Linked DNA regions of Homo sapiens. The protein of the gene in region 2 purifies or fractionates together with the protein of the main gene of each other region. This does not show direct contact. Each region holds a gene or a part of one and is shown on either strand. Other genes may lie near its edges.

Evidence for each region.
Region 1: the proteins of MINDY4 (region 2) and KRT2 purify together in Homo sapiens (affinity purification with mass spectrometry, with the first as the bait; one large-scale study listed by BioGRID). This does not show direct contact.

What each region holds. Positions count from the first base shown.
Region 1 is NC_000012.12:52,646,189-52,649,614, reverse strand, and holds part of KRT2 (keratin, type II cytoskeletal 2 epidermal), read left to right. Parts: intron 1-512; coding exon 513-608; intron 609-1,277; coding exon 1,278-1,442; intron 1,443-1,759; coding exon 1,760-1,885; intron 1,886-2,654; coding exon 2,655-2,875; intron 2,876-3,426.
Region 2 is NC_000007.14:30,773,972-30,778,320, forward strand, and holds part of MINDY4 (probable ubiquitin carboxyl-terminal hydrolase MINDY-4), read left to right. Parts: intron 1-4,349. UniProt on the Homo sapiens protein: Probable hydrolase that can remove 'Lys-48'-linked conjugated ubiquitin from proteins.

The DNA of each region.
Region 1 (3,426 bases), on a different chromosome or scaffold from region 2:
GAGCTGAGGAAGGAATGGGACTTCCCTTAGAATGCCTGCTTAAAGTTGCTGTTGGTTGTGCTGACAAAGGTTTGAGGTTGTAGGCCAAAAGCAAGGGTTCTCCTGCTGGGTCCTGCAGGGCCTTTGGTGTATATTCTGGGGAAATTTCGGAGAGGTGAGATGGACAGACGGGATGAGAGAGCTGAGGACTGTGGAAACCCACAAAGAACATCGTATCCTGTTGTAGAAACACACAGTGTCTCAAGCAGGAGAGAGGGGCTGGTTGGCAAAGCTTGGTCATCTCGAGGCTCTGATGGTCCTGAGGGCTGTGAGCCATGGACGTAGGCATGAAGTCCCTGGCAGAGGTGTATGGTAAACTGCACGACAAAAGAAGTCCCATGGGGACAGGGATCAGGTTGGGGAGCCTGGGATTTTAGAGAGGAGCCAGCAGGGACTGAGTAGAGGGGAGTGGCAGAGAGAGGAAGAGGCCTGTACAGGGAACCATACACCAGAGGCCTCAACCTTTCTTGCAGGACGTGGACAATGCCTACATGATAAAGGTGGAGTTGCAGTCCAAGGTGGACCTGCTGAACCAGGAAATTGAGTTTCTGAAAGTTCTCTATGATGCGGTAAGGAGGCTGCTCCGGGACAGTCCCTTACTTCCCACCCTTCTCACCAAATGAAAGTCCTTTCTGCTTGGTGAAAAAGTGGCAGAAGTGGGGTTTATGGACCAGCTGACTTCAATCTGCCATCATTCCAGGCCACTGGGGGGGCTTTCATAGCATAGGTCTTGTGGGTGAGGAATTTTCTCCTCCGATGTTATGGGAATAAGGTTCAGGAAACACCAGGACAGCTTCCCCTCCCTCCATTCCCCAGATGTCCATTTCCCCTGGGGAAGAGACAAGCCCTGTGCCCATTCCTGTGCCTACTGTACTTCAGAGGTCAAAATGCATTTGTCTCCTATCCCCCTCCCCAACCCAAGGGTGCACAGATGATTTCTGAAACAGGAAGTCCATTTAAGGTATTTGCCATGGACAAGCTTCTGTCTGGGGGCACTTACCATAACTGGCTTAAGTGCTGAATGTTAACTAGGAGGCTCAGAAATACAGGTGCCTCTCACTACAATTCTCAGGACAACCTTGGGAGAGGCCCAGGAGTAGACGGTTACATGATTTTCATCCCACCTAGTGTATGCTTAGTCTGAGGGTCTGCGTTTCCCTTATGCTGGGAGACAGAGGCCTCCTGTCTGCCTGTAGCTATGGCAGGATGTCATGACCAGACCTTCCTGTGTGTTGTAGGAGATATCCCAGATACATCAGAGTGTCACTGACACCAACGTCATCCTCTCCATGGACAACAGCCGCAACCTGGACTTGGATAGCATCATCGCCGAGGTCAAGGCCCAGTATGAGGAGATCGCCCAGAGGAGCAAGGAAGAAGCGGAGGCCCTGTACCACAGCAAGGCAAGTAGAGGGAATGTAGGAAGAGCCACAGCTCCCTGCCATGAGCTGGGTTGCACCCCCAGCTGGAAAGTGTACAGTAAGGTTATTGGTTTTTTGTTTAATGGTAGTTGGGCACCATTCCCAAGAAAGGATGTTGAGAATGGCACCAAGTCCTTTTGGGCATGTGAGACAGTCCCTACCTCTCATGAATGCAGCCATGACATTTAGCTGGGTTGACCCTCCCTGGACCAGTAACCAGCTCTCCTTCACTCCAGTCAGTCTGGAATGTGAGCCAGGCTGGAACTTCCTTGCAAACTGTCCTCTTCTCCCCATATCAGTATGAGGAGCTCCAGGTGACTGTCGGGAGACATGGAGACAGCCTGAAAGAGATCAAGATAGAGATCAGCGAGCTGAACCGCGTGATCCAGAGGCTGCAGGGGGAGATCGCACATGTGAAGAAGCAGGTGAGGCCCAGCCCTGTCCAGCGAGGGGCGGGAGGTTGTCTCTGGGTGTGCGTGAGAGTGTGGTTGTGTGTGAGTGTGCATGTGAGAGATGAGAGACACTGAGATATTGCACTCTAGCATGTATCGATCCCAAATTCCCCAGCTTAACATAATTTATGGCTTATTATAACAATTCTTAGAGTGCTCTAATAGACATTCCAAAGTAAGGATTATCGAAGGGAAAGAATTGTGCTCACTTGTTTATATGAGGAAAAGGGAGTCATAACAAATAGAGCAAACGTTAGTTTGATTGATTTGCTGCAGATTGCCGATGGAGCTTCCCGTTTGTGCTCAGCACAGGCCCTGAGCACCAGCCGACTGGTTTCATAGAGGGGCAGTGAGTATTGAGGGCAGCTGGCCTGGGGCTGGACGTTAGCTTTGGAATAGAAAAGGTAGAGGCAGAGAGTGGATTCCATCAGCAGCAGAAGCTTTGCCAAGCAGACCATTTCAAATGTTTTCATTTCCATCTGTAAAATGGGATCATGATTCAGGCCCTGTGATGTGAGGATCAAAGGGCACTATGGGGAAAGCCAAAGGGTGTCATCAACGGTGACATGGGAAGAAGATGTGCCAGAGACAGCGGCAAGTCTTAGCACAGTTGTTTGCGACTAAACTCCAGAGGGGACCTAACACTCCCAGGGCCAGTGGTTCTGGCTTCCTGCACTTCGAACACCTCTGCTCTCTGTCCGCCTCCGTCAGGCAGAATCCATTCTCTGTCCTTCTGTCATAGTGTAAGAATGTGCAAGATGCCATCGCAGATGCCGAGCAGCGTGGGGAGCATGCCCTCAAGGATGCCAGGAACAAGTTGAATGACCTGGAGGAGGCCCTGCAGCAGGCCAAGGAGGACTTGGCGCGGCTGCTGCGTGACTACCAGGAGCTGATGAACGTGAAGCTGGCCCTAGATGTGGAGATCGCCACCTACCGCAAACTGCTGGAGGGCGAGGAGTGCAGGTGAGGGCACTGGGAAGGGAGAAGGGGACCCTGGCCCTTCCTCTCATCTCTCCCAGAGCCAGGGCTGGAGGCAAAGACAGGGAAAGCAGAGAATGGGGCAGGCCCTCCTGACAACTGAGAACTGACATTCTCTGTGTTCCCCAAGCAGAAACTCAGGACATAAAGCATGATTGGAGAGTTACACATTTATCAACATGAAATGATGCATAAGGCACATTAAATTAAACTAAGCAGTAAGTTAAACATCCTGGTCTTTTCTGAAAGAGAAAACAAAATCATGGGAAAACAGGTTAGTCCTAGACAGTCTGAAACTTTGGTCTCTAGGTCCATAGGGTGAGTGGCTTCTGTGCCCTCCACCGGGTGACCCAGAATGGGGGAGATGATGTCTCGGAATGTGCTGACTGGTGGGGACGTGCTGACCGGAGCAGGTGCCAGCCCCAGTTCTTTGCAGGTTTCTGGAGTGACAAATGGAACCATTTGCTAACTTTCAAAGAGGCACCCTTTGCTTCCTCTGTAGTCTGAGACCTTTGTCCGTATTATCAGCATCTTGG
Region 2 (4,349 bases):
GTAAAATTCCACTCGTCCTGCTCTACACTTGCGCCCATAGAGCTGAATGAGATTGGAGAGAAACACACACCACTATGTTGATGGTATCACTCTAAATCCATGGCCACTCACCCTTGTGGTGCCTTATGGGTGCCTGCCCACCTGGTTGCAACTCTCCAGACTGTTTACCCTCTGAGACCCTGGATGACCATTTCATACCTTCTCTCTCTTCAAACCCTGAAGCTCCTTCCCCATCTAATTTCACTGAGAAAACAGAAGTCTTGAGAGAAGTCCAGCAGGCTCCCACTACCACACTTACTCACCTTCCTGGGCTGCACCATTCACTCTGCTCTCTTTAGTGTTCTTGTGGATGAATTCTCCATACCCCTGGTTAGGCCCACCCCTCCATGTGTGCATGCCCTCTCTTGTGTGCTCAGGGATGTCGCTGTCTCCTGCACCATGCATTTCCCTCCTCTACTAGGTTACTCCTATCAGCACATGTTGTGCTCCTGCAGAATCCCATCTTGACCCCCAAACCCTAGCTACTGGTTTATTATTTCCTCCCTTTCTATAGAAACCCCATAAAGGACCTGTGTCTACTTTCATTTTAATTCTTTTCTCTGCTTTCTCGAACCCATTTTAATCAGACTTTTGTCCCCATCATTCCATGGAAATAGCTCTTCTTAGGGCCATTATTAACCTGGAATTTTTAGTCCTCGCCCTTCTTGATCTAATGATTATGTTTGTCACAGTTGATTGTGTCCTTCTGCTTGTCTTCTAGGAGACTGTCCCTCTTAGCTTTCCTCCTACTCCTCTGGGTGCTCCCTTCAGGGTCTTCGCTGGTCCCCCTAGTTTCTCTGTCCTGTGCACTCTGGTGGGCTCAAGGACTTAGTTTATGGCTCTCTTCTCTTCTTCTTTCCGTTCACTCTCAAGACATCTCAGCCAGTCTTGTGGATTCCCATACCATCTATATGCTGACAATTCCCAAATGTCTATCTCTAGCTGAGACCTCTCCTTGAACTCTTGAATTCTTACAACTGCCTATTCTACATATCTACTGGGATGTCTAACAAGCATCTCAACATGTCTCTGATAGTGTTTCTGCTCACACTTCAGACACCAAATGTATGGGGATTTTTCCTCCATACAAACTAAATCTCCAACTCTCCAGACACCAATTGGGTGTCGTACAATTCAAATCAGTCCTGACACTACCAAGAGTTAGTGCAGACCCTGCAGGTTAAGTCACGCTCATGACTGCCCCCACTTCAGATGCTAGTCAGAAGTCCCAAGTTGCCACCTGAACTTCTGACCAACTAGCTATAAATTGAGGGTTCCCACAACCCCCTCCACAGTTTTAATAATGTGCTAGAATGGCTCACAGAACTCGGAGAAACACTTTACTTACATTTACCAGTTTACTATAAAGGACACAATTCAGGAACAGCCAGATGGAAGAGATGCATAGGGCAAGGTGTGGGTGGAGGGTCATGGAACTTCTGTGCCGTCTTCAGCATGCTGCCCTCCCAGCACCAACCTGGGAACTGCCTGAACCCCATCATTCAGGAGATTTTGTGTCAATTCTGCTATATAGGAATGTTTGATTAAATCATTGACCATTGGTGGTTAGCTCAATCTATAGCTTCTCTTCCCTCTCTGGGAGATTGGGAGGTAGGGCTGAAAGTTCCAGCCCTCTAATCAAGGTTTGCTCTTTCTGGTGACCAGCCCCCATCCTGAAGCTATCTAGGGGTCCCCATCCACTAGTCATCACATTAGCATACAGAAGACATTCTTATCACCTTGGAGATTCCAAGGATTTTAGAATCTATGTGCCAGGAACCTGGGACACAGAACAAATATATATTTATCATAATGTCCAAAACTCAATTTCTGATTTCCTGTTCCTCCTACAACTGTGCCCATTGGAATAAATGGCATCTCTGTCCTTCTAGTTGCCTGGGCCCAAAACTTTGGAATTATTCTTGGCTTGTTCCTTTCTTGTGCACCTCATATCCAGTCCATCAGCAAATCTGTTGGCTTTATCATCAGAGCACATACAGAATGTAGCCACTTCTTACCACTTCTGTTGCAAACACCTTGCTCCAAGCCACCCCTTTGTTTCATGTGATTTGTGAATTGTTCAATAGCCTCCTAAATGGTTTCTCCTTAATCTCCTGCCTCCTACAGTTTATTTTCAACCTAGCAGCCAAGTGATCTTTCAAAAATATGTCAGTTCAAAATAGTAGCCTTCCCATTTCATAAAAGCCCACAAGACCTTTCCTTATGAGTCTCTGGGTGACTTCTGACTTCCTTACCTCCTTTCCCCTGCCATGCAGCTCTAGATGCACTGGCCTTTTGCAACTGGCTCAGGGCCTTTGCACTTGCTGTTCCTTGCCTGGAACACTTTTCTCCCAAGTGTCTGTGTGGCCTGCTCTTTTGATTCCCTCATCAATCAATGATGCCTTTCCTGACCACCTTTGATAAAGTAGCAGCGCATCCCCACACCCACCCTAGCCCTCTCTGTCTCCTTATCCTACTTTGTATGTTTTTTCCCCATATCATACTATACTTGTTGTCTCTCCCCCTATAGAGTGCAAGCTCCCTGAGGACTGGGACTTTCATCTGTTCACTGCTCTGCCTCTAGCAACTGGACTTACGGACTAGTGGTCTGTTCCCTTCGTTTCACAGATAGGGAAACTGGGACAGGAGTGAGCATGTGGATGATGCTGAACAAATAGCTGGCCATCTAAAACAGTGGCCTTCATCCTTGTCTTCCCTCTCCCTGCTTTGTCTCCCTCGTAGTGCATATTAGCAGCTGCCACACTATACATTTATGGTCTGCTTTCCCAACAGAACATCAGCTCTTATTCCTTCTGTCTCTCCTGCATCTAGAACAGAGCCTGGCACATAGGAGGTGCATGACAGGTGTTTGTTGGGCGAATGAAGTTTGAATGGGCTGGATGGGACTGAGGACTGGCTGACTCCCAAGGGCACCCTTGTCCTCTACCCCAATGGTATTTCTTTTCTTTTCTTTCCTTTTCTTCTTTCTTTCTTTTTCTTTTTCTTTTTTTTTTTTAGAGATAGGGTCTCACTCTTTCATCCAGGATGGAGTGCAGTGGTGTAATCATAGCTCACTGTGGCCTTGAAGTCATGAGCTCAAAGATTCCTCCTGCCTCGGCCTCTCAAAGTTCAGGGACTGCAGGCCTATGGCACCATGCCCAGGCCCCCGGTGGTTTTCAAATGCTGGTGTGCATCACGCTCTAGAGCCAGGGTAGGGGTGGGGTTTGTTAAATGTACAGGGCTTGCTGATTTGAACTGTTGACAGACATAAAGAATTATCCATCAGAGAGAGCCTCGTTATAGCATGTTCCACATCACTTTGACTGGAGGGAAAGCCATGGTTAAGCCCAGATGAAATGCGGGTGGTTGGTTTTGAACCCCACCTCTCCTTCAAATGGACTCTTCCCGATGCACCTAATCCACCTTTTTTCTGACCCATATATCCATTTCTTTCCATTTCCCTTCCCTACGGCCTCCTCTTTCCTCTGTTTGTTTCAAGATTGTGTTCTTTTAGTTTCCCAAATTGACCTTCTTAGCTAAATTCATGGTGGGCATGGGTTTTGTCATGTTTCCCCAGCAGCTAGAGCCTCTGTAAAATTCTGAACACAAAGGCTCTGGGAGAGGCTGAAGCCTGTGTAGCACTGGGGGTCTGGAATCCATTAAGAACAAGGAACACCCCTAACACCAGGCTGAGCTGTTGGTGAGGCATGTTCTCAGCCTCCAGCCATTTGACAATCACCATGGCCCAGTGAGGTGGGCAGAGAGCAACTGCTGTGGTTGTTTTTCAAATAGAGAAGCCAGGCACTTGCGAACAGGACCCTCACTTCGCCAACCCCAGATTTTCCATTGCTAGAGCATGTCTCAGCTGGGCCTTGAACCTTGGTCTTCTGGCAGTTCAGGGTGGGATGATGGAAAGTGGCTTTGCTCATGACTTAGCATTTACCAAGAGCTTCTCATGGGCCTGGGTCCCAGAGTCATGGACTCACAGTTTGGGATGGTTACAGCCCCCACCTGTGATGTGATTCCATTGTGTTACATTGGGCAAGTCAACCCCATCTCCTGGTTTCCCCATCTGAGAGTGAAGGGAATGAATATTAGCCTTTTGTTTACATTTTTTCTTTTGTTTAATTTTAAAGCTTCATATACTATGGTTCCAAATGTAGGGCCAAACCCAGGACTCCTGTGCGCGAGTCCTGAACTCACTCCTTATCTGCGAAATGGCCTGAAAACTTCAGCCTTCACTTAGCCCATGGGGCTGTTGTAAGAATCAGAATAATATTAATTATTGCAAAGGTGATGTCAAGTGTAAA